5 separate regions of the Homo sapiens genome follow, and all the other regions are linked to region 2. Evidence: fine-mapped expression QTL. A gene starts in region 2. Each other region holds a variant in brackets. All regions are shown on one strand. Distances are from middle to middle. Region 1 overlaps TRPM8 (transient receptor potential cation channel subfamily M member 8). Region 2 holds the start of ARL4C (ARF like GTPase 4C). Region 3 has its middle 31 kb from the start of LINC01891. Region 4 overlaps LOC105373933 (a long non-coding RNA gene). Region 5 has its middle 17 kb from the start of LINC01891.

Evidence for each region.
Region 1: its variant is fine-mapped to the expression of ARL4C in whole blood (TOPMed, PIP 0.92).
Region 3: its variant is fine-mapped to the expression of ARL4C in whole blood (TOPMed, PIP above 0.99).
Region 4: its variant is fine-mapped to the expression of ARL4C in whole blood (TOPMed, PIP 0.97).
Region 5: its variant is fine-mapped to the expression of ARL4C in whole blood (INTERVAL, PIP above 0.99).

Annotation. Positions count from the first base shown.
Region 1 is chr2:233,987,707-233,994,030 of GRCh38, reverse strand. All of the region lies in intron 21 of TRPM8 (transient receptor potential cation channel subfamily M member 8), which reads right to left. Among named protein-coding and RNA genes, the nearest start is that of SPP2, 60 kb to the left of the region's middle. RefSeq lists an enhancer at 3,455-3,504. The variant C/T (reference allele first, on the strand shown) is at 3,402.
Region 2 is chr2:234,493,734-234,500,057 of GRCh38, reverse strand. ARL4C (ARF like GTPase 4C) reads left to right here and starts at 2,977. Exons shown (of 2, transcript NM_001282431.2): 1 at 2,977-4,046; 2 at 4,222-6,324. The coding sequence starts at 3,472. The coding sequence ends at 4,252. RefSeq lists an enhancer at 1,942-2,715 and silencers at 2,900-3,189, 3,300-3,399.
Region 3 is chr2:234,420,565-234,426,888 of GRCh38, reverse strand. No RefSeq gene overlaps it. Among named protein-coding and RNA genes, the nearest start is that of LINC01891, 31 kb to the left of the region's middle. The variant G/A (reference allele first, on the strand shown) is at 3,848.
Region 4 is chr2:234,289,186-234,295,509 of GRCh38, reverse strand. The region is part of intron 2 of LOC105373933 (a long non-coding RNA gene); the gene reads left to right. Among named protein-coding and RNA genes, the nearest start is that of LINC01891, 160 kb to the left of the region's middle. RefSeq lists an enhancer at 4,498-4,547. The variant C/T (reference allele first, on the strand shown) is at 3,372.
Region 5 is chr2:234,434,919-234,439,884 of GRCh38, reverse strand. No RefSeq gene overlaps it. Among named protein-coding and RNA genes, the nearest start is that of LINC01891, 17 kb to the left of the region's middle. The variant C/A (reference allele first, on the strand shown) is at 2,565.

The sequences.
Region 1 (6,324 bases), 510 kb after region 2:
GAAAATACTTTAAGCAATGTTGTATTTCCAAAAAAGAAATAGATGCTCTATTTCAAAAAAGGAAATAGAAATCTTTGACTATATATCTAGTCAAAAAATGGATTATACTGACTTCCCAAAACTCTAACACCAAAGAAAAAATCAAAACAACTGCATCCATTTTTGTGCATTGATGTTGTTTTCTGAGGTATTATTCCAAAGGAAGCAATAAGTCCTATTGAAAAGAGAAACTTCCAGGATGCTCAGAGCAGGGGAAAGCATTCTCTCTGGCAAGTGGGCCCCCCATCTTCCTCAGAGAGCTCAGAGTGGAAACGCAGCCCACAAGAGTCCAAGTAGGAAGAGATTTATTGCACCATGGCTTAAGTGGCCACTTGGAGTCAGGGAAAAACATGTCTTCTAGATCATCTAAAATAGGGATTGGAAAACTGCAACTTGGGACCAAGCCAAGCCCCCCACCTGTTTTTGTACAGTCCATGAGCTAAGAATGGCTTTTACAAAGCAGGGAGGTGCAGGTGGGTACAGCATCACTGAATACTGCTTCTTTTGACACATCTGACCAATGACCCTAGCTGGCCCTTACAGAGAAAGTCTGTGATCCCTGAGCTACAGTGCACGTAGGCCAGTGCCCATGAATAAGGCTTTGTGTTTGTATCATTCCCTACTTTTAAAGAGCTCTGCCTCATAGGTCACCAATCATTTGTTCCTCAGGACAACTGGGTTGACTGCACGGCCCCTCCTGCTGGAAGAGTAGCTTCCTCTGTACCTCAAGGGCAAAGGTGGATCCAGTGAGCAGCAATGCTTTCCCAGACAAATAGCAAGAACTCTTATGGGCATCCCAGGGGGTGTGAATGAACCAGCTGATAACTGGACATTAATACCCAAAAGCCGTTTTGCATAAATAATGCATATTCAGGATTGGCTAGGCTGAGATTTATTTATACACCGAGGTACAGCTGACCCATATGGCAGCAGCTTCCAAAATGTTCTTTTTCTCTCAAGTCAGTCCAGGACTCAGCCAAATAGACATGAGGGTTCTCCAGAGGGGGGCTCCTAATGGAGCGATGCTTCCACCTGCTTTCCTAAAACAATGTTTATATTCTGTAGACATTGTTTTCAAATTCTGTAAAGGGGAGACTGAACTCTGCAGAAAAGGATTTTCTGGGCCAGCACGTGCACACCCCCTCAGCAAAGCAAGCATTGTAGCAGCTTAGAGACCATCTCTCATGCCCAGGGTCTCACCCGCCCCATCTGAGATGGTTCTTAAAGTCTCCTTGACAACCAGTGGCCATCTGGTGTTGTCCCTGAGAGAATTCTGCAATTTTCCCTTTGTGCATCTCCAGCGATATCTTGTGCCCTTGGCGTCCTGTCCCTGGCAAACACCTAGCTGGCTGGAGACATGCAGTGACAGCTGAGGTCCATCTCCTGAAACCAGCTGAGCAGGAGAGGAGGAGGAAGGAGAGGCCATGCAGAGGGACAGCAGTTCAGAAACTCACTGAGAGTGGAAATGGTACCAAGAGGGAACAGACGTTTAGAATTCAGATCACTTTGTACATAAATGAAGTCCAGAAGTACCTTAAAAGAATAACACACCATGACCATGGAATAGGATGACTAAATATTAAGAACATTTATGTCATTCATCTTTTGTACAATGCATCATAATACTAGATCAAAGGGAAAAATAGCATTTCAATAACTGCTAGAAATCTTCTGGCAACATATAACATCCTTTTCTGATTAGGAAGAGAAAGAGAAAGGAGCTTAATAAACAAAAAAGAGGAGGAACTTTCCATGACATGATAAAAAGAAAAAAAAAGAAAAGTAATTTAGTAAGGAGACTCATTCCAGAATAAATAAGGAAAACTTTAATAACCTTCTTACGTACCAAAACGTAGTCACTGAAAAAACATAATAGAAAAAGTACCTTACTTTTTTCCCCCTACCATAAGTGGCTGGAAACAAATTAACAAGGAATCTGCCAGATCCATATGAAAAAGACCATAAAACTTTACTGGGAAATTATATATGTTTGAATAAATGAAAATCATAGCATTTCTTCTCAATAGTAAGATGCCAAATTCCCTTAAATGATTCTACAAACCTAACATCATCATAATAATATTCACAAGAATTTTTGGGGGAAGGAGAAAGAAGAAAGAATCCACAAGATAAGCCTTAGGCTCCTCTGTACAATTAAATATACAAGAAATGCCAGAAAAGTTTTGAATAAGAATAATGAGGGAAACTTGTACAACAGATGTTAGAACGCCTAAAAGAAAAAAATACTTCAGTAATCAAAGCCATTTGGTAGTAAAAACCAAAATACAAAGACAGATCCACAGAACAGAATGCAAAGTCTGCAAAAAATTCACAAGGAAAAAGTAGATGCTAAAACAATGGCAGAATTTTCAAATACACTGAAATACAAGAAACTTGTCAGCTAATTCCCTATCAGATGGACACCTCCTCCAAACTTTGCGTAGATTTCATGGATTTTCCTTTGTCGCTCCTTCCCCAGCACACAGGCAGTATCTAGCCAGTACTGCCCCATGGCCCGTGGTGACAGTGACTTTTCGCTCTCTCTGATGCGCTGGTGTGTATGTTAAACTGTGTAACACATCCTGGTTCCCCTCTCATTCTGCAACATCAAAAAAGCAGGTACAAAGCCAACAACAGCCAGCAGTAAGAGATGACAAGCGATTGGATCACACTGATTTTGGAATTGATAATTCAGGTTAGTATATTGCTAACAGAATAACCAACTAAGACTGTGCCATATACTTGCACGAAGACCCATGACATTTCTCTTCAACTTCAGGAAAAAGTCCAAATTCTTTAATATACTATAAAAGACTCTCCATAACCTAGCCCCTGCCTACATTTCCACCCTCCCCGGCTGCTGATTCCTCCCTAGACTAACATTATCTCCCCTGCTTCTACCTCTCCTACCAACACTTGGGGCTCTGGGTACATGATCTTTCAAGCAAACATCACCTCCACCTAGCTGCTGCTGCAGATCCTAGGCTCCCCCAGCCAACAATCTCACAATTAATAACTCCCTCCTCTGCAAATAGCCTCTCCATGCTGTTTGTATTACATTATATTATATATATTATATTCATATGTTTCCATGTCATCTCTTCCCTTAATATCAGGGACTTAACCTTTCTCTGCCTCCCACTCCTTACGTGTAAAATGGCAATAAGGCTGCACCTGAGGCAGGTTAGATGAGGTGGTCAGAGCCTCCCTTGACAGGAAACAAGAAACTTGTCAAATTGATGAAGAGAACAAACCACCTAACAGTGCACAGACCGCATCCTGAGCTCGTGGTTAGAACACCCTACAGCAAAAAGGCAGGAGCAGAAGAGAAAAATCCCCACATTTGTACAAGCACAGAAACC[C/T]GTGATTAGTGTCCTTGGGCTGACCTGTGCTCATTATAATAGTAAAAAACACACCCCCAGGTGGAGATTTAAAATGCTTATAAGACATGCGATGGATGTACTAGCATGTACAGCCACTGCACATGTGGACCTAAGAAACCACTCCTAACATGCTTAATAGCAACACCCCTTACCACCCCTTCATGAATAATCATGCAAATTTCCCATAAAGGGAGATCCCCCAGTATTAGACAGAGCTGTCTTGCCTTTGAGTGGCCCGTTCTGACCGGCTGCTAGAGTGTACTTTGGCTTTGCAGTCAACTCTCTTGCTTGCTTTTGCTTTTGACTCACTTTCAAATTATTTTCTGTCCCAAAGTCAAGAACCTGAACTAGCCCACCGGCTACACACCTACACAGAAATGAGTAATAATTAAATGAGGCGACCCCTGTAAAGCACTTGAACCTGTGCCCAGCATGGGAAAGCTTCAATAAATATTAGCTATTGTTACTATTACAATTATCTGCGCTCTTCTTTCTATTCTTTTCACCCCAATTCAATAACCTCCCTTAGACTGTTCACACAGCACTCAAACCTTTAGTTTGTATCAGGTCATTATTTTCTTCCTTCTACTTTTCTGCATGTTTATATTACTCCTAAGATCTGAAAAACATTTTTAGAAATTATTCTACAGCAGGACATGTTTGACGAGTCCTTTTCAGAACTGCCTGGGGTGAACTTATCTTCAGGGCACAATGCTTATAAATGCCCTAGCTCCTGGTAAGTCGACCTGGAGTCATTTACTGACTTTAAATTCACTTCCTGCCGCTGATAAGCCACACAGGCCCTGTGATCGATAATTTTAATGTAGAATAATCACAGATGTTCACATCCATTTCCTTTCTCTGTTGAATACCATCTAGAGAGCACTCCAATACTCCTTCAGAATTCCCAAAGGTACATTTGCATTGCAGTTAATAAGGTTGCCATTGTGTATGGTTAAGCTTTTAAATGAGTATTTTGATGTGGTGCCAGGGAAGGGTCACATCCTGGGGCCATCTGCTCACAGAGTAAGCCCTGAACAACTTTAAAAATGATCAGAAACAGTGTTCCAAGGATTTAACCTAAGGATAACAACACGGCGTCTCTCGCTGTTCTGGTGTCCCCAGACAGGTATTAGCCAGGAAAAGGCCTCTGGTTTAAGCCGGAGCTAATCGAGGAGGTTCCCCAAGGACAGGGATGTTGCAAGCTGTCACACTTAAGCACTGACTGGGGCAACAGTAGGATGTGATGCAGTGGCTCTGGCCTCGTGGGGAAGAGACCTGAGTTAAGCCAGATAACGCGCGGCCAGGACCACAGACGCTGAGCTGCTGGGACTTCATCTCCTTCACCTGAAAGTGACAGACGAGGCTCCCATCTTTCTCAGCTCCAAATTCAATCATTTCATTATCAAAATGCAGGTAATGGATTACAAAAGTGCCCGGTTCTCATGAATGGCTCCTTCAGACAGCTCATGTGCATAGATTCAAAAAAGCTCTAAATATTTTACCATGTGCCTCGTTGAGATTTACCAAGTTAGCATAACTCAAAGGCCATGGTTTTAGGAGCTGTTGGTCTTTTTGTTTAATGTCTGTAAATATAGTTAGTGGTGAGTTCTTACAGGACTATCCAGTGTAGCTATGACATCTTATCACTGTAAAGAAAAGCCTGAAGCCATCCCACTTCGCCCTCGCCTTTGCTTCAGGTTTTGGGATTGGTCTGTTTTGCTCCCTCTCTTGTGGAGACATAATCACCCATAACCTGCTGCTTCTCTCTGCAGCTCAGATGTTGGCCCCTCTGACTTTTGGACACTATTTGGACATCATGACATTGGCTGGCTGCCTGTGAGTCAGACAGGCTTCTGGATCCTCAAGTCCCTCCCTGCCACCAGCTAGGTGGTGAGGGAGAGTTTCCCCTTCCCTTCTTAGGGCCATGTGGAACTAGCAGCCACATAATCTTCATGGCCCAGGCACCTGGCACAGAGCAGATGTTAAACCTTTACATGATGATTCTCTTGCTGATTTGTTACTCACCATTGGTGCTTCTCAGTATATAATACACCAGGAAGCTAAGCTCCTAATAACTAAATAATGAACTAAACATGGGTAAGAACCCATTTTTTTCATTCATTGAATAAACCCACAAAGTGACAGGTGCTGAGATGGCGGGCACAATCTTCACCCTCCAGAGTTCGCCATTCTCAAGGAGAGAAGGTTGTTACCATGCAAGTAAAAGAGTGCCATAGGGGCTCAAAGAGTCTCTGTGTGAAGTGGGGAGGCCATCAGGTACCACCCTGGCAAAAGATGATTCCTGGCTCTGTAAAGGGCAAGCAGAAACTGGGCAGGAAGAGAAGTTCGGGATGGAACAGGCAATCCAGACAGAGGACAAGTATGTGCAAAGCATCAGGCATAGCAGTTCACCCTGTTTAAAGAGGAGCATATGGGAGGCCTGCCGGGGGACAGAGAGCAGGGGATGAGCATGGTGGGGAAGCTGAGAAGACTGAAATTTATCCTGAATGCTGTAGGGAAATATTGAAATCCTTCCAGAATTTTAAGCAGAACAATGACTGTGTTAGTCCATTTTCACACTGATGATAAAGACATACCCAAAACTGGGCAATTTACAGAAAAAAAAAAAAAAAGAGGTTTAATGGACTCACAGTTCCACGTGGCTGGGGAGGCCTCACAATCATGATGGAAGGCAAGGAGGAGCAAGTCACGTCTTACGTGGATGGCAGCAGGCAAACAGAATGAGAGCCAAGTAAAAGGGGTTTCCCCTTATAAAACCATCAAATCTCGTGAGACATATTCACTACCATGAGAACAGTATGGGGGAAACCGCTCCCATGATTCGATTATCTCCCACTGGGTCCCTCCCACAACTTGAGGGAATTATGGGAGCTACCAT
Region 2 (6,324 bases):
GCAGCCAATATTTTCCACTCAGTGGAATTTAGCCATGATGTATGTCCATGAAGAAATAGGCTCAAAGTAGGCCTTACATGTCTGATATGAGTGGTAAACATTACCTTCCTTTTCATAATTCCAGTGTTTTTCAATAAAAATCCACATTTGAAGGAAAGTTACCAGTCGACTCAACCAAATGATATTTTTATGTGTTAGAAGTTAAATTATCAACTGTAAAATTAACTTATCACCTGGTGAGTGAAATTAGCAGGTAGAGTGGTTGCTATTCAATTATGGTGAGTTGCTGTTTAATGGCTGTGTTCTGGAAGGCTCTATTAATGTCTATTAATCTGTTTTTTCCTACTGGACAGCAGACAGCCCTTTATTGCTAAACCCCATCATGGTGGTGCAAAATGTGGAGGCTGCAGTCAAAACCACTGAGGCTCTTGGTAATAATTAGCATAGCACCAAAAAGATACATCGGATACTTTACTAAAATATCTCCTTCCTACCACCTTAAAACTTAAAGCAAGTCTTGACTAGGGGAAAAGGAAGTAACACAAAGGTAATCTGTGGAAGCCGGATGGAGAGGCTTCCAGTCTGATCTGTCTCTTTCCAAATGTCCAGGTCCCAGGCTACTAAACCAAAGGCTCATCTTGGGTTGGGGCTCAGCCTCGGCCCTGCCTGTGGCAGAGAAGAAAGAGAAACAAGAAACAGTCTCATGAGAAGCTGGCTATCTATGGGGCAGGCATTAAAGAGAGTCAAGAAAATCACTCCAAAAACACAAAATCCTGTCTCCCCAGGGTTCCCAATAACGGAAACATCATCATTATGAATTATGCCAACATATGTTGTTTCTGTTGCCTCACTAGAGTTGCTCTTTTGGTGACAGATCCTGGATTCTTCTTGGAGAACCACCCTTCCCGATTTCAACCCCTGGGCCACATCCACTGGTGTGTTCCCTCCTCCTGGACTGCAGTCCTTGATCCAGGGTGCGTGCTCCAGGCTTTGGTTAGAGTTACTGGGAAAGAGTTGTACCTTTTCCTTTCCAGGATCTAAACCAAGGATGTGAGTCCAAGGCTGCCAGAAGGAAAAAGAATCAACACAGGGGAACACGGAGGAGGACTGGAGAGACACCTGCTCGAAAGACTCCTTTTGAGCTCCTGGGTCTAGCCATGCCTGAAGAGGACCTTTATCCTTAACTTTTCAGTGATGTCAGTGAATACATTTCCATTTTTATTTAAAATGAAGTAAGTGGCACAGTGCAGCCAATATTTTCTGTTGAACTCTATCCTTCGGGTGGCTCACTTTATTCCTCATTGAAGGAAATAGCGTGTGGGTAGAGTGGGATGTGAGGAAGAGGGCAGGCAGGTGCCCAGTTTTGTGCATACAGACCCTTGGTCCTGGAGCAGGCAGTGGGCCTCTAGGTTCTGCCTTAGCCGTCACGGGCGCCTAGGCCTTGTTACCTCACTGGACAACGTTGGGTGGAATGATAGGCAGGGTCCTTTCCAGCCTGATACTTCGTTTCCAGCCCCAAATCCACTCAGTAGAGTGGATGGTCGCTCCGGCTGCCACCTTGGGAATTCCAAGGATAGGGGTGGTGGTGGCTTGTCCTTCCTTCTACAGGTGAGGTCTTCTCACATGCTTTGGTACCAACGATATCATATGTCTTTTCGTGGTTTGTGAACAGAAGGTGATAAAGTATTTCTCTAAAATTCTAGCTTTTATTCATAAATTCTTAGCATTTTCATTTTCTTCTCCCTTGACCCCGTTTCCGTCGTTTCTGTCTCATAAGCTAGAGCTGGGAAGATGCGGTCGCCCATGCTGCGGCCTGCTGTCTCCTGCGGAGCAGCTCTCCCCAGATCTGTGTGTTTGCCATAATATACTCTCACTTTTCTCCGCACCCAGAGAGGATATACATTTGTTACATGTTTACAAACCAGAATAAAACCATTGAACTGAGGTGACAGGAGGTGGAACCCGTGGAATATCAGTGTTTGTAACCCACTGCGCCACCAGCTCCAAGCTGTAGACACATTTTCTTTCAGCCCCCGGGGCTGGTGTTGCCATTTCTGCGGAGTAGTTCACCTGCGGGCAGGTGGTTCTCAGTTCCCAAAGTCGGGTGGCAAGGGGTGCTCTCCCGAAATGCTGACGCTTCCCCTGGGATGTCAGCAGAGTCGATGCGGACGAAATGAGGTAGCCCAGGCGTGTCTGGGAGGGTGAGCTGTCCGAGCTACTTGGGGCAGGTAGGTCTTCTAATCCCCCATCGCGGCCTAGGTCCGACCCTGCCCCAACCGCCGCCACCGGGCAAGAAAGGCTGGGCCTCCAGGGTGCCCTGGGCACAGGCCTGGGCTCCGGAGGGCGGCGCTGGCCGGGTGCAGCCCCCTGGAACCCAGGCAGGAGGCGAGCCTGGGCGTCACTGGGGGCCGGGGCCGGCGACAGCCGCGGCGCGAGGGTGGGAGGGGACGCGCCCGGCTGGATCCAGAGCGCAGGCTGGCAGCTCACCGAGGCCAGCCCCGTCCCGTCCCTTCTGGGGTTTGGAGGCCCCAGCCTCGCCGCCCTCACTCCCCAGAGCGGCGCTCTCCCAGTCACCCTGGGGGCCGCCCTGCCCCGCCTCGCGCCCACAGAGCTGGGACCCCGGGACCCACTCCCTCAGGCAGGCTGCGTCGCCCACGGCTGCGGCCCGGAGGGGCAGGGGGCGGGCTAGGACCCGGGCGGGGATTCCGGGAGCCGAGAGCTATTTTTGCAAACGCGTCAGCCGCTGGGGAGGAAGAGCCGGCTCCGCGCCCATTGTGTCTGCGCGGCGCGGCGCGGGAGGGGCCGGGGGGCGGCGGGGGGCGGCGGGGACGCAGCGAAGCGCGCGAAAACGGCCGGCTGGGCGGGGAGGACCGCGCCTGACCCCCGGCGGCGGGCGGGGCGGGGCCCGGGGCGGGTCCGGGGGCGGGTCCGGGGCGGGGCGCGAGGGGGCGGGTCCGGGAGCTCTCCGGCCGCTGCAGGCTGGCGGCTGCTGCGGCGGCGCGGGGACTGTGAGGCTGCCGAGCGGACAGCGACTCCCGGGGAAGCCCGCGCTCCGGGAGCGGGAGCGGGAGCAGGAGCAGGAGCAGCGCCGTCCCAGGCCAGAGGCGAGCGCCGGGCGCCGGGAGAGCGGAGAGCCCGGGCAGCTGCCGGAGCGCGGGGGCGCGGCCCGAGGAAACCACAGAGCGAGCCCAGGCCTGGGGAGGGCGCCGAACATCTGAGGCGGCTTCGCGGGAGACAAAGCCGCGCGTAGAGACGCGATGCCCGCCGATCGCGAGCCCGGCCGGCGAGGGCGCGGGGACTGCGGCGTCTGAGCGCGCCAAGCCGTGCGCCCGCGGGGACGCCGAGCCCCGGGGCCGGTGCGGGCGGCGGCGGGCGGGGCCCAGGTGCGCCCGGCCGCGTCGGGCCCGTGACTGCTCGGGGGGCGGCGCCCTCCCGCCGCAGCCGCAGTGGCTGGCGCCGCAGCCAGGAGCCATGGGCAACATCTCCTCTAACATCTCGGCCTTCCAGTCCCTGCATATCGTCATGTTGGGCTTGGACTCGGCCGGCAAGACCACGGTGCTCTACCGGCTCAAGTTCAACGAGTTCGTGAACACGGTGCCCACCATCGGCTTCAACACCGAGAAGATCAAGCTGAGCAACGGCACGGCCAAGGGCATCAGCTGCCACTTCTGGGACGTGGGCGGCCAGGAGAAGCTGCGGCCGCTGTGGAAGTCCTACAGCCGCTGCACGGACGGCATCATCTACGTGGTGGACTCGGTGGACGTGGACCGGCTGGAGGAGGCCAAGACGGAGCTGCACAAGGTGACCAAGTTCGCCGAGAACCAGGGCACGCCGCTGCTGGTCATCGCCAACAAGCAGGACCTGCCCAAGTCGCTGCCGGTGGCAGAGATTGAGAAGCAGCTGGCGCTGCACGAGCTTATCCCGGCCACCACCTATCACGTCCAGCCGGCGTGCGCCATCATCGGCGAGGGCCTCACCGAGGGCATGGACAAGCTCTATGAGATGATCCTGAAACGCAGGAAGTCCCTCAAGCAGAAGAAGAAGCGGTAATGCGCCCGGAGCGACCGGGGAGCGAGCGAGTGCGTCAAGAAAGAATGAATGGATGGATGGATGGTTGGATGGATGGATGGATGGATGAGCGAGAACCCGCGCCCGCGAACAAAGAGCGAACCAAAGCGATGCTTCGAATTTTTAAAACGGAATCTCTGCACCCAAATGCAGGACTGGTGACTTAAGGAGCTGCGAAGTCTGATTTACCGGCCTACTCTCGACCTGCCCCCCACCCCCAGCTCAGGGGACCTTTTGTCTGAACGCCAGAGCTACTGACCAGGTCGGGGGGCCGCGGTGGGGAGTGGAAGAGCCGGTCCTGCTGTCCGCCCTCCCAGCCCCAGGTGGAAGGCTCAGTTGTCGGAAAGACAAAAGCGATTTCTTCCCACTCCTGCAGGGCCAGAAGTTCAGGCTGCCCCGCCTCCACTGGGGGATCGCACCTGTGAATTACCTGAGGTATGCATTTCCCAGAACCGTGGGCGTACCCACCTTGGGGGGCATGTTGGTTCTGGGGGGACCACCTCTCCTTGCATTCAGGGGCTGTGAAGCTGAGTAATTTTCGGTCACAGGGCAGGCCCCTGTTGAAATTTCATTTGTCCTGCTCTGGGCCCAAAGGTGGTGGTGGTTTGGGTCATCAGAGGACTGCCTGGGACGGTTCAGCGGGCACGGAGCGCTGTGCTGGCCTGGCTGGGGATGGCCGCGGAGGTGCCCTTTTCCTGGTGCTTTGTGGTGGCTGCAGAAGACCAGTTTTGTTGAGAACTGCTTTTCAGCCTGGAATCAGACATCTTCCAGATGGTTTGGACCCTGTCCATGTGTAGGTCATTATCACACAAAGAGACCAATAAAAATAAAAAAAATAAAAAAAAAAAAAGACGAACTATTGGAGGTGGTGGCCAATGATGCATTTACTGTTTGCAGGATAGTTAAAGGTGTTTAAAGGGTAAGGCTTTTGGTGTAAATGCTGGATGGGGTGTGTGTGTGTGTGGATATAGGGACCTCCCTCTGTACTGTGTACTGTGTAATCGGCATTAATACCTAGACTCATATGTATGGAATTTTAAATTCTCTTAGCCTACTGATTGGTTTGGATGAGCACACCAGCTGCAGGTGTGTGCTGAATTGCAAGATGGTATTTTTTTTTTTAACCAAGGGATGTCTCTTGTAATACTAACCGCGTGATAATGGGTTTTCAGACATGATGAAAAAAAAAAACTTTTACAAATGAATACTTACCTTAGAAATATTCACCTTAGGAAAAAAGACTTTGCTCTGCCCTTTTATATTCCTTTATGCTGCAAGTGGTGACATGTTCAGATTTCTAATTTGGTTCATTGTGGCCTATCTGGTTTAAGTCTTTCATTAAAAATGTCTCGTTAGAGTATTTGATGTCATGCACCAAAAAAATAAAACCCCACCTTGTTGCAAAAGCTGACCTCGTTGCATGGAATTAAAAGAGAAGGAAAAACACAAGGATGAAGTCTTTCCGAATTCATTCTTGTGGGAACTGGCCTTCGGAGCCAGCCAGCACTTTGGGCAAATGCAAACAACAATGAGTGCTTGAGATAAAAGAAAGTGTGACGTCATGGTCACTGGTACTCAGGCACTTCACAGTTTACTTGAAAGAGGCTTTGGAAAATAGATAAAGTGAAAGAAGAATAAATACATATTTTTAATAATGTAATTTTAAAAATCCTTTATAATCAGGACTGAGTCTTGGTTTGCAGAAGCTGTCACTTACCCTGAAACACAGTATCAAAAGGGAAACTTAAAACATACTGTTTGATTTTTTTATTTCCTCTTACAATCCATGTTTTCAGGTAGAATTATGACTTTCCCCCCATTGTTACACATTTCTTTACAAAGGAGGCCTGTAGAAATTGGACACGATCATGCTTGAGCATGTGAGTTAGTCAAATTATGAGTCCCTGCCTATTGTCCATTACACACCGAATGTTAATTTAAGAACCAGAGGCAGAAGTTCTGGCTTCCTGCTTGAAACCCAATTCTTATATGAAATTTTTTAAAAGCAGAAACCTAGCAGCCCATCTGCTTTTTCTCTTTTGTCGGTGTATTTGGTACCCCTCCAATGCTGGTCTTTTTGTAGAAACTCAGTAGAGAAAGTCTAGCTAAGCAGTGTTGAAAAGCCTGCAAGATTTCAGTTTACATATCGACAGCATATCCACTGATTTCTAAATGGGCTGGTCCCATCATCTGAAGATTCTGTATAGAATTATTAAAAAAAAAATCCATCTTTCTTTATTTTCTTCACATGCGACA
Region 3 (6,324 bases), 73 kb after region 2:
GTTCCATCCTGAGTGGGAGGGTTGCTAGTCTCAGAAGCCTCTTCTAAGTTTCTCTTTTGACATCTGCTTTGGGCAACAACATGGCCACTGCTTCCTAGAGAAATGGGAAGAGAAACCCTCACAGTTCAGAGGGTGAGAGTGGCTGATCCCTCCCCCATCTGTTGACACTCCTGGAAACTTTTGGGGACTTCTGGGGATGGGGCAGAGGGGCCTATTGCAGAGGGTACATCTTCCCACAGGTTAGATGTTGACGCTCCAGCTGCCCCTGGCCACCGATGGCAGATGATTTCCTGAGCCAAGGATCCTTTCTTGGATTCTGGGTCTCCCTCACTTAGGAAGTAGAAGAGAAACTTTCATTTCCAAAGTGTTACTCTGCCATGAAATCCATCAATGTGGAGTGGCAGAACAGAGAGCTCAGCAGTTCCATTATCTGATGGAGCTCAGACAGTGCAGAAAAACAAAGTGTTTCCCTTCTCAGTGTGTGTGTGTGTGGCTTTTTTTTTTTGGGGGGGGGGTGGTCATTGTTAAACTGACACAAGGTGACCTGATAGGGGAAGGAAGATCTGTGATTCATTAACACTCTCTCCCTTCATCTTTGTAATCGTCATCATTTTCATTTCTTCCAGCAGTCTCAGGACCTGCCTCCAAAGGCAGGTCCTGAGGGTTCACAAGAAACCTAGAGCTGGGCGAGCTTGCTTCCCTCCTGCTGGGTTCAGCCCTAACTGCCTCTTCCTCAGCCCCGCCCTGCACACCTGCAGTTAGGGCACCGAGGCAGCCCTAACGCTTCTGAGGAAGTGGGTTTTGTGGGTAGGTGGAGTTCTATGTCCCAGAGGGTGAGGAACTGGGCACCACACCCATCCCTGTATGCAGTGGGTAGAGTGGCCTAGAGGGCCAAACCTGGGAGGAGGGTAGGGAGGACCCTCTCTGGCCCATCCTCTGCTTCTTCCCGCATGCCCCTGAGGGCTGCGTTGATGTCCTCATTTCCATATAACTCCAGTGACACAGAAGCTCCTTGTGAAGTGAGCTTTCCTGCCTAATTGAAAGACACCAGCAGAACATGACTCAGGGTGGCAGTCGTCCTGCCCTGGCACTAGGCAGGTCACCCAAACCTCCTTGTTCCTCCAGATGAAGATGCTAAAGCCTGGCCAGGTGAAAGAGGAAGAGGCAGGTCACCCAAACCTCCTCATTCCTCCAGAAGAAGATGCTAAATCCTGGCCAGGTGAAAGGGGAAACTCAACCCCAAGGAGTCAGGTCCAAAGGGACGGGTCCCCAGGGACTAACTGGGACAGGGGTCTGAAGGGACCACCAGCAGGTCAACCCACCCACCAGCCTCACCCGTGCTGTGTCCCCAGACATGAAGCCAAGAGAGCAAGTTCCCTAAATTCCCTTCCCACCTCTGCCACGACCAGCTGGGTCTTATAGTCACTCCCTGCCCGGCCTCATTCCCAATAAAACCCAACCACCAGGGGCCCCGCCACTGGCTACCACTTAGCTCGCTCTCACCCCCATCCCTGTGACCTCCCCCAGAATCTCCTATGGCTTTTCCCACCACCCTCCAACCATTACCAGTGAGGCTTGGGCCCAGGGTGTGTCCGGGCCTCTCTTGCCACCCACCACCCTTCATCTTTGTAGCCCGCTTTCCTGCAAGAGGGAATTCTCTCTTCCCATTACAACAGGGCCTGTGGCTTGAGCACCCAGGGTGCATGTGTACAGACTTGGGGAGCAGGGGCTCAGCTCCAGGCACTTCTAGGACCCTGGACCCTGAAATTTATATAGTGTTCCTTTATCTGGTAGCTCATGTCACTCATTAAGAGTTGTTCCATTTCTGGTGGGGTGCGGTGGTTCACGCCTGTCATCCCAGCACTTTGGGAAGCCGAGGCAGGCAGATCACCTGAGGTCAAGATGAGCCTGGCCAACATGGTGAAACCCATCTCTACAAAAATACAAAAATTAGCTGGGCATGATGGCAGGTGCCTGTAATCCCAGCTACTCAGGAGGCTGAGGCAGGAGAATCGCTTGAACCCGGGAGGCAGAGGTTGCAGTGAGCCGAGATCGCGCCATTGCACTGAGCAACATGACTAAGCAAGACTGTCTCAAAAAAAAAAAAAAAAAGAGTTGTTCCATTTCCTAATTTTGAAGGGTTTCATTTTACAAAGATTTGGAATGTGTATTTCTCCCAGAACAATAATTTCTTTTTATTTGTTGAAATGGTGTAAGCAGAAGTGTCATGCTAAATGTCTGTACATGGTTTCCATTCTCTTATGTAAACTCCATTTTTATAAATAGAGAATTCAATTTGATTCAACTTTAAACAGATGCTACAGTTAATTTTGAGCAATTGTTAATATGTGTGGGAACATGCTTTGAAAATAAGTCCGTGATCCCAATCTGTGCTCTGAGTGTTTTCATTGAATTGAGCACAGAAGTCCAATTCTGGAGAGATGAAAACACAACAAAGCCAAGATGATTTGAAACTGGCCTTATCTAAAGTTTTGTTCCTTTAAAAAATCAAAACGTCATTTATTTTCCTTCCACCCCAGCCCCCGTCTTCCCAGCTTTGATCTTTCTACTTGTCAGAATATTGCATCAATGACACTGGAAATATTTATTCAACAAATACCTATTAAGCCCCAATTAGAGGCTGGATGTTGCATTTGGTCCTGAAAATTAGACAAATACGTTCCCTGTTCTCAAGGAGCTTATAGGCCTGGGTAAGGTAATTGCAGACACCTGAAGTATAACATACACCTGAAGACTCTAACAGGGACACCTATCTCCCGAAAGGATCGAGGCATGGCCCTCCAATTAGGTTGACTTCAAAGTGTGAGGGGAGCCCAGGGGATTTCCAGTCCTAGGAAAAACCTTCACAGCCACCAAGAACTTTCATGTTTTAGTTTTCAATTAAGCCCTTTCCTTACATAAATTTTCTTCTGGATTCAAAGTCATTCAAAATGATGATTCACTCTACCTGGCAAAATATGCCGTCTTTAAAATTATTAATATAATTGTATCAGTTTTCTATTGCTGCTGTAGCAAATTACCACAAATGTGGTGCTTAAAACAAACCAAATTTATTATCTTAGAGTTCTGAAGGTCAGAAGTCTGGCATGAGCTAAAATCAAGGTGTTGGCAGGGCTGTGTGTCCTTTTAATATTTTTTATTTTTGGTGGCCTTAACAGAGGGTTGATATTTTGTCACATCTCATCGACCTGTCTATTATTATTATTATTTTTTGGTGGGGGATGGGGACAGGGTCTCGCTCTGCACTACAGGCTGCAGTGCAGACAAAATTGTGGCATGGCTCACTGCAACCTCAACCCCCCTGGGCCCAAGTGATCCTCCTACTTCGGCCTTCTGAGTAGCTGGGACCCCAGACATGCACCACCATGCCTGGTTAGTTTTTTATTTTTGTAGAGTCAAAGTCTTACTATCTTGCCCAGGCTGGTCTCAAACTGCTGGACTCAAACAATCCTCCACCTCAGCCTCCCAAAGTGCTGGGATTACAGGTGTGAGTCACCGCGCCCGCCCACCTGTCTCTTCTGCCTCCTTCCGCATTTAAGGGCCCTAGTGATGGTACACCTGCATAACCCAGGTGATTTCCCTATTTTAAGGTCAACTGATTGACAACCCTAATTCCAGCTACAAACTTAATTCTTTACCATGTCATATAACACATTCATAGGTTCCTGAAATTAGGACATGGACATCTTTTGGGGGCAGGGTGGGGGGATGCCATTATCCTGCCATCTACAAGAATATAGTTGTAATTATGTGACGTGCTGACCTCCTGTCTCAGCATCATGCTGTGCGGTGCAGACCTGAAGCTGTGAGCACACACCCTGTTGAC[G/A]GAAGCAGCCGCTCTCCTATGTGATGAGGCTGTGGTTATCATTCTCCTCATCCTGATACCTCTTTTCTCTCACTGGGGATCCCTGCCAGCTTCTGCAACACAAAACTTCATTTTTATCTCCTAGTCTATTTGTTTTGTTCCCTAATAATGTCGGGTTTTTTTCTATGGTTTCTAAAATTCTTGCCACTGTTCAGCCATTTTTATACTTCTTGGAACTTTTTGAATTTTGAATAAGTAAATAAATGCTCAAATATGCATCAAACTCTGTAAATAAACAGAAGCAATTACAAGTTTTAGAAATAGTCTTATGCATTATGGTAAACTCAAACTCAGTGACGTGTTTGAAGTTACTTGTCATAGAATTCCTCAGCTCAGATTTAAGCTCAATTCACATATACAGTCCCTACCTTCTGGTTAATGTCAACATTCATGAATAGGCGTGGCCTTTGCAGGAGTGAGCTCAGGGAACCATGCTCCATGAAGCTCAGGGAAGCATACCTGAGTGTCCTATGCATGGATGACAAAAATCATTCCTTCCTTCCTAACATAATTGACCTTTACACTTTATGAGTAATGGTTACATGAAAAACACACCCAGCTGAAGCTTGGGGAAATATATCATGACTCACTCATCCATTCCACAAATACTAATGCAAGCTGTTGGCATGCTTGTATCTTAATATCAGGGCCACGTGCTTCTTTGCTGTCCGGGCTCTATCTGATCTCAAGGAACAGAGACAGCATGGCAGAGGTTACCATAGTTAATGGTGTTCAGCTTGTTTATCTTAAAGATATCTACAGGTAGAAAGAAAAAAAAAAAGGAAACCAGTATAAATGCTCCTGTAGAGGCTGCACACAGTAGAAATCAGTCCAACCTCATATAAACTGATTGACATATAGGCTTAAAGTTGGTCCTCATAACCCAGTTATCATGGGAAGCCACAGAAGTCCATGTCTCCTGCTTGCTATCTGAGCACACTTCCATTTAGATGAGTTGGTACTCGCCGGGTGCGGTGGCTCATGCCTGTAACCCCAGCACTTTGGGAGGCTGAGGCAGGTGGATCACGGGGTCAGGAGTTCGAGACCAGCCTGACCAACATGGTGAAACCCTGTCTCTACTAAAAATACAAAAATTAGCCAGGTGTGGTGGCGCTCACCTGTAATCCCAGCTACTCAGGAGGTTGAGGCAGGAGAATCCCTTGAACCTGGGAGGCAGAGGGTGCAGTGAGCACGGAGATCACACCACTGCACTCCAGCCTGGGCGACAGAGTGAGATTCCATCTCAAAAAAAAAAAAATGACTTGGCAATCCCCTATCTTCACTTCTGCATGTGCCACTACCCACTAAATACAAATACATTATTGCTCAAGCCATGTCAAGCGGATATTTGCTGTTATTTGCAATCATACTCATTCTGCTGGTACACTTCTATTTTTTTTTTTTTTTTAACGGTTAAACCGTCCCTATTTAGGACCACCTGAATGTGATAGTCCTGGGGCGATCATGTAAAAAGTAGAATGGAATCATGCTCATGGAAGCCATCTGAACGTTCAATATTAACGCAAGGCAGGGCAATTATTACTACTCAAGCATCCCCAGAGGGACAAAGGGAACCTCCAGGGACCACTCAGGAAATAATTAAGAAATGCTGGAGGAGTAGCTTTTTTTTTTTTTCAAGACAGAGTCTCATTCTGTTGCCCAGGATGGAGTGCAGTGGCGTGAAGTGATCTCGGCTCACTGCAACATCCGCCTCCCAGATTCAAGCAATTCTCCTGCCTCAGCCTCCCGAGTAGCTGGGATGATAGGCACATGCCACCACGCCTGGCTAATTTTTGTATTTTTAGTTGAGACGGGGTTTTGCCATGTTGGCCAGGCTGGTCTCGAACTCCTGACCTCAGGTGATCCGCCTGCCTCGGCCTCCCAAAGTGCTGGGATTACAGGCATGAGCCGCCTTGCCGGAACTGGAGGAGTAGCTTCTTAAGAAACCACATAACAGGCCGGGTGCAGTGGCTCATGCCTGTAATTCTAGCACTTTGGGAGGCTGAGGTGGGCAGAACAGTCCCAGAACCTGTAGCTGGAACTACAGGAGTGTGCCACCACACCTGGCTATTTTTTTTTGTATTGAGGAGGTTTCACCGTGTTTCCCAGGCTGTTCTTGAACTGCTGAGCTCAAGCAATCCACCCACTTCAACCTCCTAAAGTGCTGGGCTTACAGGCGTGAGCCAGTACGCCCGGCAAGAGTCTACATATTCTGAAGTTATATTCCCATCAATTCAGATTCTGACCTTTCTCCAGGAAATCAAAGAATTCTCTATAAATATTATCTCCTTGCAGCCTCTGCACTGCAAGCAGGCTGACGTCATGTTTGGTTTGCAGTTAGTAAGGAGCAGTTTAACTTGGGGGCTGCAGCCATGGAGTTCAGAGGTTAACAACCAGGCAGCAGCTTTTTGTTCCTGAACTGGGTGGTGCTGCTATTG
Region 4 (6,324 bases), 200 kb after region 2:
CAAATTATGGGCTTATAAAAACCTCACTCTTCCCTCAATAAAATTGAGAAAGGACTTAGAGTGTTAGCAAATAAATCATTCATATGAATCAATGAGAAAACCTAGAATATTCCATTAAGTAAAGTGGCAAATAAAAAGTTTAGGAAACTCAGAAAGATGAAATATAAACACGTTATAAAGAAATGACAATTGGGCGGGCGTGGTGGCTCACACCTATAATCCTAGCACTTTGAGAGGCTGAGGCGGGCAGATCACCTGAGGTCAGGAGTTCCAGACCAGCCTGGCCAACATGGTGAAACCCCATCTCTACTAAAAATACCAAAAATTAGCCGGGTGTGGTGGTGGACACCTGTAATCCCAGCTACTCAGGAGGCTGAGACAGGAGAATCACTTGAACCCAGGAGGCAGAGGTTGCAGTGAGCCGAGATTGTGCCATTGCACTCCAGCCTGGGCAACAAGAGTGCAACTCTGTCTCAAAAAAAAAAAAAAGGAAATGACAATTTAGTCAACCTTCCTAAGACTCAAAGAAAAACAAAGGTGAAGAAAATATACCAAATTTTGCCTCTTCAACTAGTAATTAATGCTAGCTATTATGAAGATGTGGTAGGAAAGCCATACATTTTCATATCTAATGATTTGGGAAAATAAAATTTTACAATCCATTTGAAAATCCATTTGGCAGCTTGTGTCAAATGCTTAAAACATTTTAATATACTTTAAGTGGAAACAACCACAAAAGTTTAAATTGTATATGTAATCAACGTAGAGTAAATAAAAGTACTGGGAAAAGGGAAGAAAATATTAATATGCCCAAACCTTGCAATATTACACGCTGGATATTTGGTGTTTTCTTTTCCATATTTTTTTTCTAATTTTTAAATTTTTTACAATGACTTTTATTTTCAGCAAAAAAAAAAAAAAAAGATTAATAACACAAAGTGCTAAGTGGATTCCACGCACCACTCCAAAGAAATCACTGTTGCTACATTGTCACAGCATCACAGGCATTAAGATACAATGCTGAAACAAACAAACATATCACTTTGTTCATAATAGAATGACAGCACATTAATCCAATCAATAGATAGTTATTTGGTGATCTCCATGCAATCTCCCACTAAATGGAATTTTCTATATTTTATTCAACAGAAGAGGTCATGTTTAGACTTAAAGGTTAATGAGTAGGGCTTCTTCAGGCAGAAAGGCAAGAGGAGCCCTCCCAACCCAGCCCCCAACTCATCCCCTGGCACAGGAGGACCATGCACCTGGACAGGAAGCCTGGGCCAGCTGTGTGGGCAGAGAAGAAGGTGGATGAATGAGGAGGTACACAGGAAGGTAGGGGATGGATGACTAAGAGCCACAGAGGAGCTCAGAACTGCCCCCTGTGGAAGTCGGGGGCGTGAGTGATAGAAACTCGGGAAGGATTTTGACCCTAAACCTGACATAATTAGCAGTGTCTGTTGAGGAAGGATCAGCAATGCAGAGAATAAACTGAGGGGTGGGGAAAGACTGTACAGAGGGCGACTCCTCTGGAAGATGATGAAATTCTAAACAAGGGCAATTATAGTTGAGACAAAACCAATAATGGATTAGAATTTCAGCTCCCCAGAGGGCTTTCTGGGGGGGCCATTCCTGTTTTCCCCTAAAGAAAATAGTGGGCCAATAGTAGTATATAAATATTTGTTGAATGAATGAATCAGGAAAAAGATACACTATATTTCTTTCTTTCTTTTTTTTTTTAAAGACAGTTTTAGCTCTTGTTGCTCAGGCTGGAGTTCGGTGGTATGATCTCAGCTAACTGCAACCTCTGCCTCTCGGGTTCAAGTGATTCTCCTGCCTCAGCCTCCTGAGTAACTGGGATTACAGGCACCCACCACCATGCCTGGCTAATTTTTTTTGTATTTTTAGTAGAGATGAGGTTTCACCCTGTTGATCAGGCTGATCTTGAACTCCTGATCTCAGGTGATCCACCTGCCTCGGCCTCCCAAAGTGCTGGAATTACAGGCATGATACACTATATTTCTTATAATGTAATGCTGGAAGGGCCTGATGAGTTCCTGAATGTAAAAGGTAGTGATGGAGGATTTCAGAAAGGCCACAAACAATAATTCCTCAAAACAATGACATCTCAATCAGTAAATTCATCCAGTGTTGCCTCATACATTTCTTTAAATATTACTGCATTGCAGTGATTCTGGTTATAACTCTACAGGCCATCAAAATATTTTCAAAGGCCACTGTTTTTCTTGTAAATGTGAACATACGCATTGTATAGAATAAACTCCTTGCTAGGATTAATAAAAAAGCTTTTTTTTTTTCCTGTTTGGTTTTCTTGTAATTTTAGTTTTTTTTTTTTAATACAGAAGTGTTACATTTTTATCCAAACATGACAAAGTATCTCTTTGATATCTGATACTTCCTCAAAACTGAACCATTGTTTCAATGTCAATTTCCTCATGCAAAGTGTTATCACTGGGGGAAACTGGGTGAAGAGTACACAGAATATAATATTTCTTACAACTGCAGGTGAATCTACAAGATCTCAAAATAAAAAGCTATTTTAAAAGCCTGAATGATTCACCTTCCTCACTGATGATCTTTCACACTGTTATGTCAAAAGGAAATCTTGGATTTACATACAGCCCCTGGAGATGGTTCATTGTCTTGTCATTTCTTTTTCATTGAGCCCAGAGGAGAAGATTGTTGCTATGCTGTTGTCATTGCAGCTTTTCTTTTTTTCAGTTGCATTTCCAAAGTAAATATCTCTCTTATTTGCAGCCTCTAAATTGCAAGATTGTCGCCATGGTTATTCTTGCTGCTCCTCTGAGCTTTATCACTTCCTCTCCGGATGCGGTTTGTTCTGCTTGTAGGTTTGCCTTCGCCTCAAAGGAGCGAAAAATGAATCATTTCAGAGTGCTCTGTGCACCAACATAGTGCGATGTTGTCTACCTTTATATGATTCAGTCGAAACGACATGGAAAAGTTCCTGGTTTAATTGATATGGTCCTCTGATTGTTGTTGACAACTACAGATACACTGTCCTAGCCATGTGGATGGCAAAAGCAGCCCCATATATGTCATCTGGGGTGGCGTTCAGGTGGTGAAGATGGGAATTGGTTGTGCAGACAAAAGTTTTGCCTGAGTCTCTTCCTGTCCTTTGCTCTCCTCTTGTTGATTCTGCGAGGATGTCTCTGGTCTTGAGGCATCCTGTGGCTCATATGGTCACCTGTGGCCCTCCAGACTTTATCACCACCAGGCTCATTCCAGAGGCCAAAATGCCAGTGGTTAGAGGGTGTCTGCATCTGACCTGCAGGAGGTGAGATACTCTTGGCTGGGTGTGTCTGGTTGCACGAACACCCTATAGTCCATTG[C/T]CCTGTTTATGTGTTTTCTGTCACTGTTGCAGCCACATCCTTCCTGGGAACTGTAGCACAGCCTCCCAGCTGACGCCCCTGAGTGCCCTTTGGCCCTTCTCCAATCCATTCTCCACAGGCAGCTGGAGCAATCACTTTAAAATGCACAATTGATTACATCACACCCTTGCTTACTGCCTTTAGTGACTCCCACATACCTAAAAATAAATCGAACTATGGCACGTGCTCCCCTGTCCCCTCCACCACACATGCCTGCCAGCTAATGGTCCCATCTCTGCAGGACACCCTCCAGCTGTGTGCATCAGGCACATGCAGGCCAGGGCCCCTTCAGAACAACTGTGCAGCAGCCATAGGCGCAGCATGGAGCCCAGGGATTCAGAAATGGGGAGGAGTTGAGCTTGGTGTCCTTGCCAGTGTCCTATGAGTTTAGGAGTGTGATATTATGAGATAAATATTTGGCCTTTGAATCCATTTCCTGACATACACCTCCTAAAATCCTTAGAATCTCCAAAGTGATGTACTTTTGAATGCTGATGAGTTGGCTGATGGCTGGCAGCCCCTAGGTAGCTTCAGGGTGAGGCTGGTCATTGGAAAGACCAAGGCAGGATTAGAGGGTTGAGATTTTCAGCCCCACCCTGAACTCCAGGGAGGGGAGAAAAGCTGAAGGTTAAGTTGACCATCAATGGCCAATCCTGCCTATGTCACAAAGCTTCCATGAAAACCCAAAAGGACACAGTTCTAAGAATTTCTAGGTAGCTGAACCCATGGAGGTTCCCGGAGAGAGTCACACTCAGGGAGAGCATGGAAGCTCCGCACCCCTTCCCCTATACCTCGCCTATCCATCTCTTCATCTGTATCCTTTGTAACATCCTTTATGGTAAACCTAAGGGTTTCCCCGAGTTCTGCGAGCCACCCTAGCAAATTAATAAAGAGGGGGTCTTTATCAATTTATAGCTGGTTGTCAGAAGTTCCCGAGGCCTGTACTAGTGAGTGATGTCTGAAGGTCAGGGGTGGTCTTGGGGGACTAAGCCCCCAACCCCTGGGATCTGACGCTGTCTCCAGGTAGAGAGTGTCAGAACTTAACTGGAGGACCCCCAGTTCATGCCGGTGTCCATGTCTGGGCAGTTTGCTCGGTGGTGGGGAGAAATCCCCACACATTTGGTCGTAGAAGCCTTCTGTGTTGATTGTTGTGGCGCGGCGTGAGAACAGAAGAACTGTTGGAGTTTTTTCACCCTCAGAGAGTGTTCTCACTTCTGGCTCCACTTCCTCCCAAGGTGTCTGGGGCACGAGTTCTGCCGGATGGCAGCGTAACTGGCTTTGGTGTTGATTTATGAGTCACCACTGGGGTGAGATGAGGGAGGCAGACTCAAGTACGTGATTACAGGGCACCAAGAGACCACCTGCCCAACAGATCTTCACTCATTGCCTTACCAAACCTGAAATTACCTTAGCAAAAGCAAGTAAATGTGGCCACTCTAGGGCCCCGACCTGGATTCCTAGCCAGACCAGCCACTGGTGCTCTCTATCTGATGCAGCCAGGTTGGTCTCTCTCAACCTCCCCAAACATGCCCATGCCTTCCTGCTCCTCTCTACCTGGGCATGGGCTATGCCCACCTCCAGGAGGTCCACCATGAAGGCGTGAGCCCAGTAATATGGAAATGTCTGTTATCAGGGCCTTTAGGGTATCCTGTGATGGTGGGAAGGGGATGCTAGCACGGGGCCAGGAACAGCAGGAGGTTTGAGGCTGCATTGGAGAAGGACAGAGCTGGGCTCTTGAATCCTAAGGCTTTCATCTCAGGCATGAATCTGGTGACATCAGGACATTCTCCAGAGCCCATTGGTACAGGCAGATTAGGGCAGGTTTGAGAGATTCTAGAATCAGGTAGATAGTACATTTTGGCATGTCTAGATAATTGAGCTTAGAAATCAAGCAATCCAGCCCCTCACTTTACAGTTAAGGAAATGGAGGTTCAGAGAGATTCTGAGCTCTTCCCCATCTTACATCTGGAAGAGGCCAGGCCAGGGCTCAGATCCAGGGCCTTTCATGAAGCAGCCAGGGCCACATGCCTGGATCACAGCTGGAAAGCTATGCCCTAGCAGGGCTGCTGTTTGCAGCTGTTCAGGCCTTGCCTTGCTTTTTATAGACTGAAGTATGAGCAACACTGCCTGGGGGTGAGCAGTGCACACACTGCACCACTGTCCGGGGAGGCTCTGAGTCAGAGTCAAAGCAAAGGCCTGAGAGCTCCCATCAGAGAGGTCCCATCTCTTGGGCTGGGCTGGGTATGTGGTGAAAATGGAGGCAGGAGGGTGACTCGGAACCTGGACAGCAGTGATGGGTCCCCATCCATGGACACTGGAATTTAGGGTGGAAGACTGGCATTTGGAAAGGCAGGTAAGAACAGACCACTGCCCTGGAGGAAATTTGGGTCTGGGTATAAAGGCATAGAGTGGCAAGATGAGGACCACTCCCCAGAGTCGAGGGTTCATTTGGTCATGAGGGGTCATGAGGGAGGCCCTTGTTACTGCGCCTAGAGTTCAAAGTGCTGCTCACTGAGCCCATGAGCACCTGGCCGGGACACAACATCCTTCCTCCTAGGCTGTGGGCCACACCAGAGCCCAGCCAGCTGGTCAAACTGAGTCAGGAGCAGAGTCCAGCAGGCTTTTACAGCAGACAGACCCTGGAACTCAAAGGGCAGGAGCAGGGCATGGACAGGGGCCACAGTCCCTACAAGCAGGCAGATGCCAAGACCTCTCTGGGAGGTGAAGGTTCAGGTAAAGTGAGCCACGCATCACCTGGGGGTTCAACACTGAATAAAGTATTGACAGAAGTTGGTAATCCCTCAGAGTCACAGGAGTTCAGCTTGCAAGCCATTTGTATGTCACTGTTGTATTTGATTTCGCAAGAACCCCGTGATGAGGTGTTGTCACACGCATGTTACCCACGTGAACTTCA
Region 5 (4,966 bases), 59 kb after region 2:
CATTGTCTGGGTGCTCCCAAGAGTCTTCCCTTCAATCCTACTGGGGGTCCCCAGCACCCTGGGCCAGGCCTCTCCCCATATTACCAAAAAGGGTTCAAACTGTTCCCATGAAGCCAACTCTTCATATGGATGGGATGGGATCCCTCGTTACTGAAGAATCACCAAGTCAAGTGAAGCATGAGCTGTTCCCCTTGACCTTGTCTTCTAATTGATCATCGGTTTTTCTTATCAGTTTGTGAGATCTCCTTGTACAATAGGCATATGAATATTTTTGTCTGACATGTGCTGAAAATATTTTTCCAATTTATCACTTTTCATTTGATTAGGTGTATGGTATCTTTCCCTAGGTTATATATATATATATATATATATGATAGATACAAATGACAAATACATGAATATAATTGCACATACACAGTGATTTCCTGTCAAGAGTAATATAGTCTCCCCATGTATAGTTTTCCTTGTCTCTAATTTTATTAAATTGTGTTTACATTTAGATCTTGGATTATTCAAAACATCGCACTATTTCTTCAATCACTCCCAAAGACAATTTATAAAAAACTTAACAGAATCTGATATTTCTAAAATAAATCACTCCAGACCAGTATCTTTTCTCTCCACCCCTCACCGAGACGGAGTTTTGCTCTTGTTGCCCAGGCTAGAGTACAATGGCACGATCTTGGCTCACCGCAACCTCCACCTCCCGGATTCAGGCGATTCTCCTGTCTCAGCCTCCTGAGCAGCTGGGACTACAGGCGCCCGCCACCCCACCCAGCTAATTTTTGCATTTTTAGTAGAGGCGGGGTTTCACCATTTTGGTCAAGCTGGTCTTGAACTCCTGACCTCAGGTGATCCACCCGCCTTGACCTCCCAAAGTGCTGGGATTACAGGCATGAGCCACCACGCCTGCCCTCCAGACCAGTATCTTATGTGAAAATATTTTATTGTATTCTAAGAAAACAAGATTGAGAGCAGAATTGAAATTCTACCCCGCCTGCCCCCGCCCCCCGCAGGCTGACTTCTCCAGCACAGCCCCTCACCTCCATTTCCTCTCCTACCAAAAACATTAGTCTTTCTTCTATCCCTAGACCAGCCCTGGGTGGAAAGACTTATTCGGATCTAAATTTTGAGCTTCCTGTTTCTTGCGGAGTTGATTTACGTTTCACTTTTCTGTTCTAAAAGCATTATCTATTCATTGTAGAAAACAAAAGTGTTATAAATAGTAAAGCCTCCACAAGCGGACATTGTTGGAGGTCTCAGCATCTGACTCTCGCCTCCATCTCCAGAGCCATGTCTTTCCCCGTAGCTGCTATCCAGGGATGGGCCCCCAGCCCGCCGAGAGCCAGGAGACCAACGGTAGCCTTACCTGTGGGGAGAGGCAGCCCACTATCCTTCCAGTCCCTGAAAGCTACTGAAGGGAACTCTGCTGCTCTGGCGGTGGGGGGTAGGCAGCCTTCAGCAGAGGAGGCAGGGCAGCACCCAAGGCCCTGGAGGGGGAACCCAGAGATGCCCTTCAGGACATGTTGTCCCAGACCTGAGTGTCTGATCTGCTAATGCTGTTATGCAGAAGGTTGGGATGAAACGCCCCACTTGCCCCACTCACTGGAGCCACATAAACCACCTGAGCTGGAGCGGGTGTCTTAGTCGGGCCTGCCAGGTGGCTGGAGGATGTGGGAGAGGAGGCCTGCTTCTCGTCCAATTCTCCTCTTCTTTGTCCAGAAATAGGCACACAATGAGGAAGGCGTCTGATTCCAGATGGCAATTGTCCCAGAAAAGCAGGTGCCCTGCACCAGTGTGGACATGCATGCGCATTAATCTAGCCATTTCCATTCAGGGTGCCCACGCCTTACTTCAGAAGGGGGCTCAGTTCATGAAAGGTGGAAGGAACCCAGGAGCGGGAGAAAAGAGTGCTGATGAAAATGGTCTTTGTTCTAAAGAAAATCCCCAAGGGAAGCATCGTTTGGTCGCTTGGTTTTGAATGGATGGAGCACAAAGCAAAGCCTCAGATGTGGTCAGTTGGGAAGGGAAGCACTCAAGCTGAGACAAGCCACTGCAAGAAAGCAAGTGGAGGGGCAGGTTTTCTTCTGCCCTCTCTTCTTCAACCCAAGAAGAGCTACCACATATTCACTGAGTACCACCCTGTGCAGGGAGCAAGGGCTGGGTGGTGGGAGCCTGCAGCCAAAGGACACGGGCATCCTAGGGACAGAGAAAACAGTGCCAACCAGGGATCCCTGTCTACAGCGTGGGAGATGAGGAGCAGAGCTGCTTATGGTCCTGAAAGAAATGGGTCTGAAGCAGAAGAAGAACACTTCTTAGGGTGGCCACTGCAGCCCGTTTGAGGGTCTTTCCCAGCCTGTGAATGCAGACAGATCAGGAGAATTTATAGGAACCAAATACGGGGGACACCACTCTCCCCTGCTCTCTCTTCCACCAAGAGAAGCAGTGCCATGGTGCCTGTGGTTATGCATGCTTGAAGGTCCTCACTTGGTCTGCTTCTTGCACTCTCTGCTGGTGGTGTTCCCTCGGGTACCATGAGCAGGGGCACCCACAGGGAGAAGAGG[C/A]CAGGGTGAGGCTCAGAGCCAAGGCTGATGCCTATGAAGGGAGGCAGCTGAGTTGGAGGCCACAGCGTGGATGGTCCCTGTCACTGGGGAGGGACAGCATGTGGAGCTTTCAGCTTCTCCCAGGGTGGGTGGTATCACTCAAGGAGGAACCAACAAACCCCACTCTTTCCCTTTCCCTCTCTCTTGACTTCCCTCCATCTTTCTTACCTTTCTTCCCCCCGCAAACCTTTATTGAGCACCTACTATATACCAGGGGTGATTCTAGGAGCCGGGGAAAAAGCAGTAAACAAAACAAATGCTTGTCTTTGTGGTACTTATACTCAGATGGAGGACAGGTCAAAGAAATACTTTGATGTTAGAGTTCAAGACAGTGCACTGCTTGACAAAGAAAGAAGCAAGTCAAGGAGAGAGAGGGCAGGTGGAACCCGCCACAAAGTGGCCTCTGTGTGGAGGGATGTGGAGCGACTGCACCGTCCCACTCGGTGTCCGTGTGGGGTCTGGGGCTCAGGACAGCCAGCACAGGGACTCCAGGGCTCCCCCATACACTGTGTGGTGCCTAAGGGTTCCAGTGGGGCAGCCCAAGTGTGTGCACTGACCTGGGCCAACATGCAGGGCCCTGTTATGCAAGGGAGAAGGAGCAGGGACTCGGGGGGAGCGGCGCCACAGGCATTCTGGTGTGGTTTCTCCAGACCCGCCTGCCTGGGAGGAACCTGATTCTGCAGCTCGTCACCCCTCAGCCCTCCCACAGCCCCTGCAGCAACTTCCAGGTCTCTGCTCTGCAACAGTGGTACCTCCCCTCAGCATCCCTCCCCACCAGTCTCCTGGAAGCTTCTCAGGCTTCTCCACCTTTGCTCCTCCATAAAAAAAAAAGTCCCACACCAAGCTCACTGGGGCCATGCTGGACTCCACCGGGCACCATGAACTGACCCAAAACTGGAGCACCAAGTCCTTCAGCGTTGGCATTGGGCAGGAAAACAGGAGACAGGCAGGTCACCAAACCACCAGAATGCAGAGTTTAAAAATAGCCTCTCGGCACTGCCCTACTTCTCCTGAAATGATTCCATTGGATCTGGTCACATTTTTATATTCTGGAAGCACTCGAGATGGATTTTCACAATACACATTAAAGCCATCTATGTGGTATTTAACCAAAGACAGGCAGATTCATAAGGAATCAAAAAGGATTTTAAGACCAAGGAGTGAAGCGTGGGGAGACCTGGAAAACCGTAGTTGGGCAAAGGAAATGGATTTTTGTACTCTGGGTGTGTGTCAGAGGGAGGGGTGGGGAGGCACTGTGTCAGGAAGTGGAAATGGCCCTGCTGGGGATAGAGATAACAGAGCTCTGAAATCTGGGAGGCGAATCCTCCAAAGGCTCAAGCCATTGATCTGCAGAGACCCTGCAAGGAATAGCAGGCCTCCCCCAGCCCATTCCAGGAAAACACCAACTCCACCAAAAACCAATGTAGGAAATCCACAGGGTTCAGCCTTCTGCCTGGCCAGCAGTGGCCACTCACCCCACTACCACCATCGGTTTCTCCTAGTCTTTGCCAGCAATCCTCTGGTTTGAATCCAATAGGGGAAGGAAAAGGAAAGAAAACACAAGCTTTTTTTTTTTTTTTTTTGAGACAGTCTCGCTCTGTCGCCCAGGCTGGAGTGCAGTGGCGTGATCTCGGCTTACTGCAAGCTCCACCTCCCGGGTTCACGCCATTCTCCTGCCTCAGCCTCCCAAGTAGCTGGGACTACAGGCACTCGCCACCATGCCCGGCTAATTTTTTGTATTTTTTTAAGTAGAGATGGGGTTTCACCGTGTTAGCCAGGATGGTCTCGATCTCCTGACCTCGTGATCCACCCGCCTTGGCCTCCCAAAGTGCTGGGATTACAGGCGTGAGCCACCATGCCCGGCCCACAAGCATTTTTATTCAACAGATTCTTACTGAGTGCTCCTGCGTGCCAGTGCTGTGGTGGACATGACAGCAGAGGATAGATGGACAATGCTGTCCTCTCTTGGACTTTGCACTCTGGGGCCACAAAGCAGAGCAAAACAGATAATACGTCTATAAAAAGTCAGGTGGGGATGAGTGCTACGAAGGGCAATGGGCCAGAGTGAAGGATAGGATAGACGGGAGCCCTCATGGAGGGTGCTCTTGGAAATCAGAGACAGGAGAGCCTGTGAAAATTGATGTCTGTTTTTCTTTAGTCTCTGCGGGGGAGGAAAATAAGCACTCTTTCTCCTGCATGGGTCATGGCTGATACTCTTACTGGAAAGGGGTCCGGATCCAGTCTTGGATCTCAAGAAAGAAATAATTCAGGGGAAGTCCACAGAGTAAAGTGAAAACAAGTTTATTAGGAAAGTAATGGAATAAAAGAATGGCCACTCCACAGACAGAGCAGCACCAAGGGCT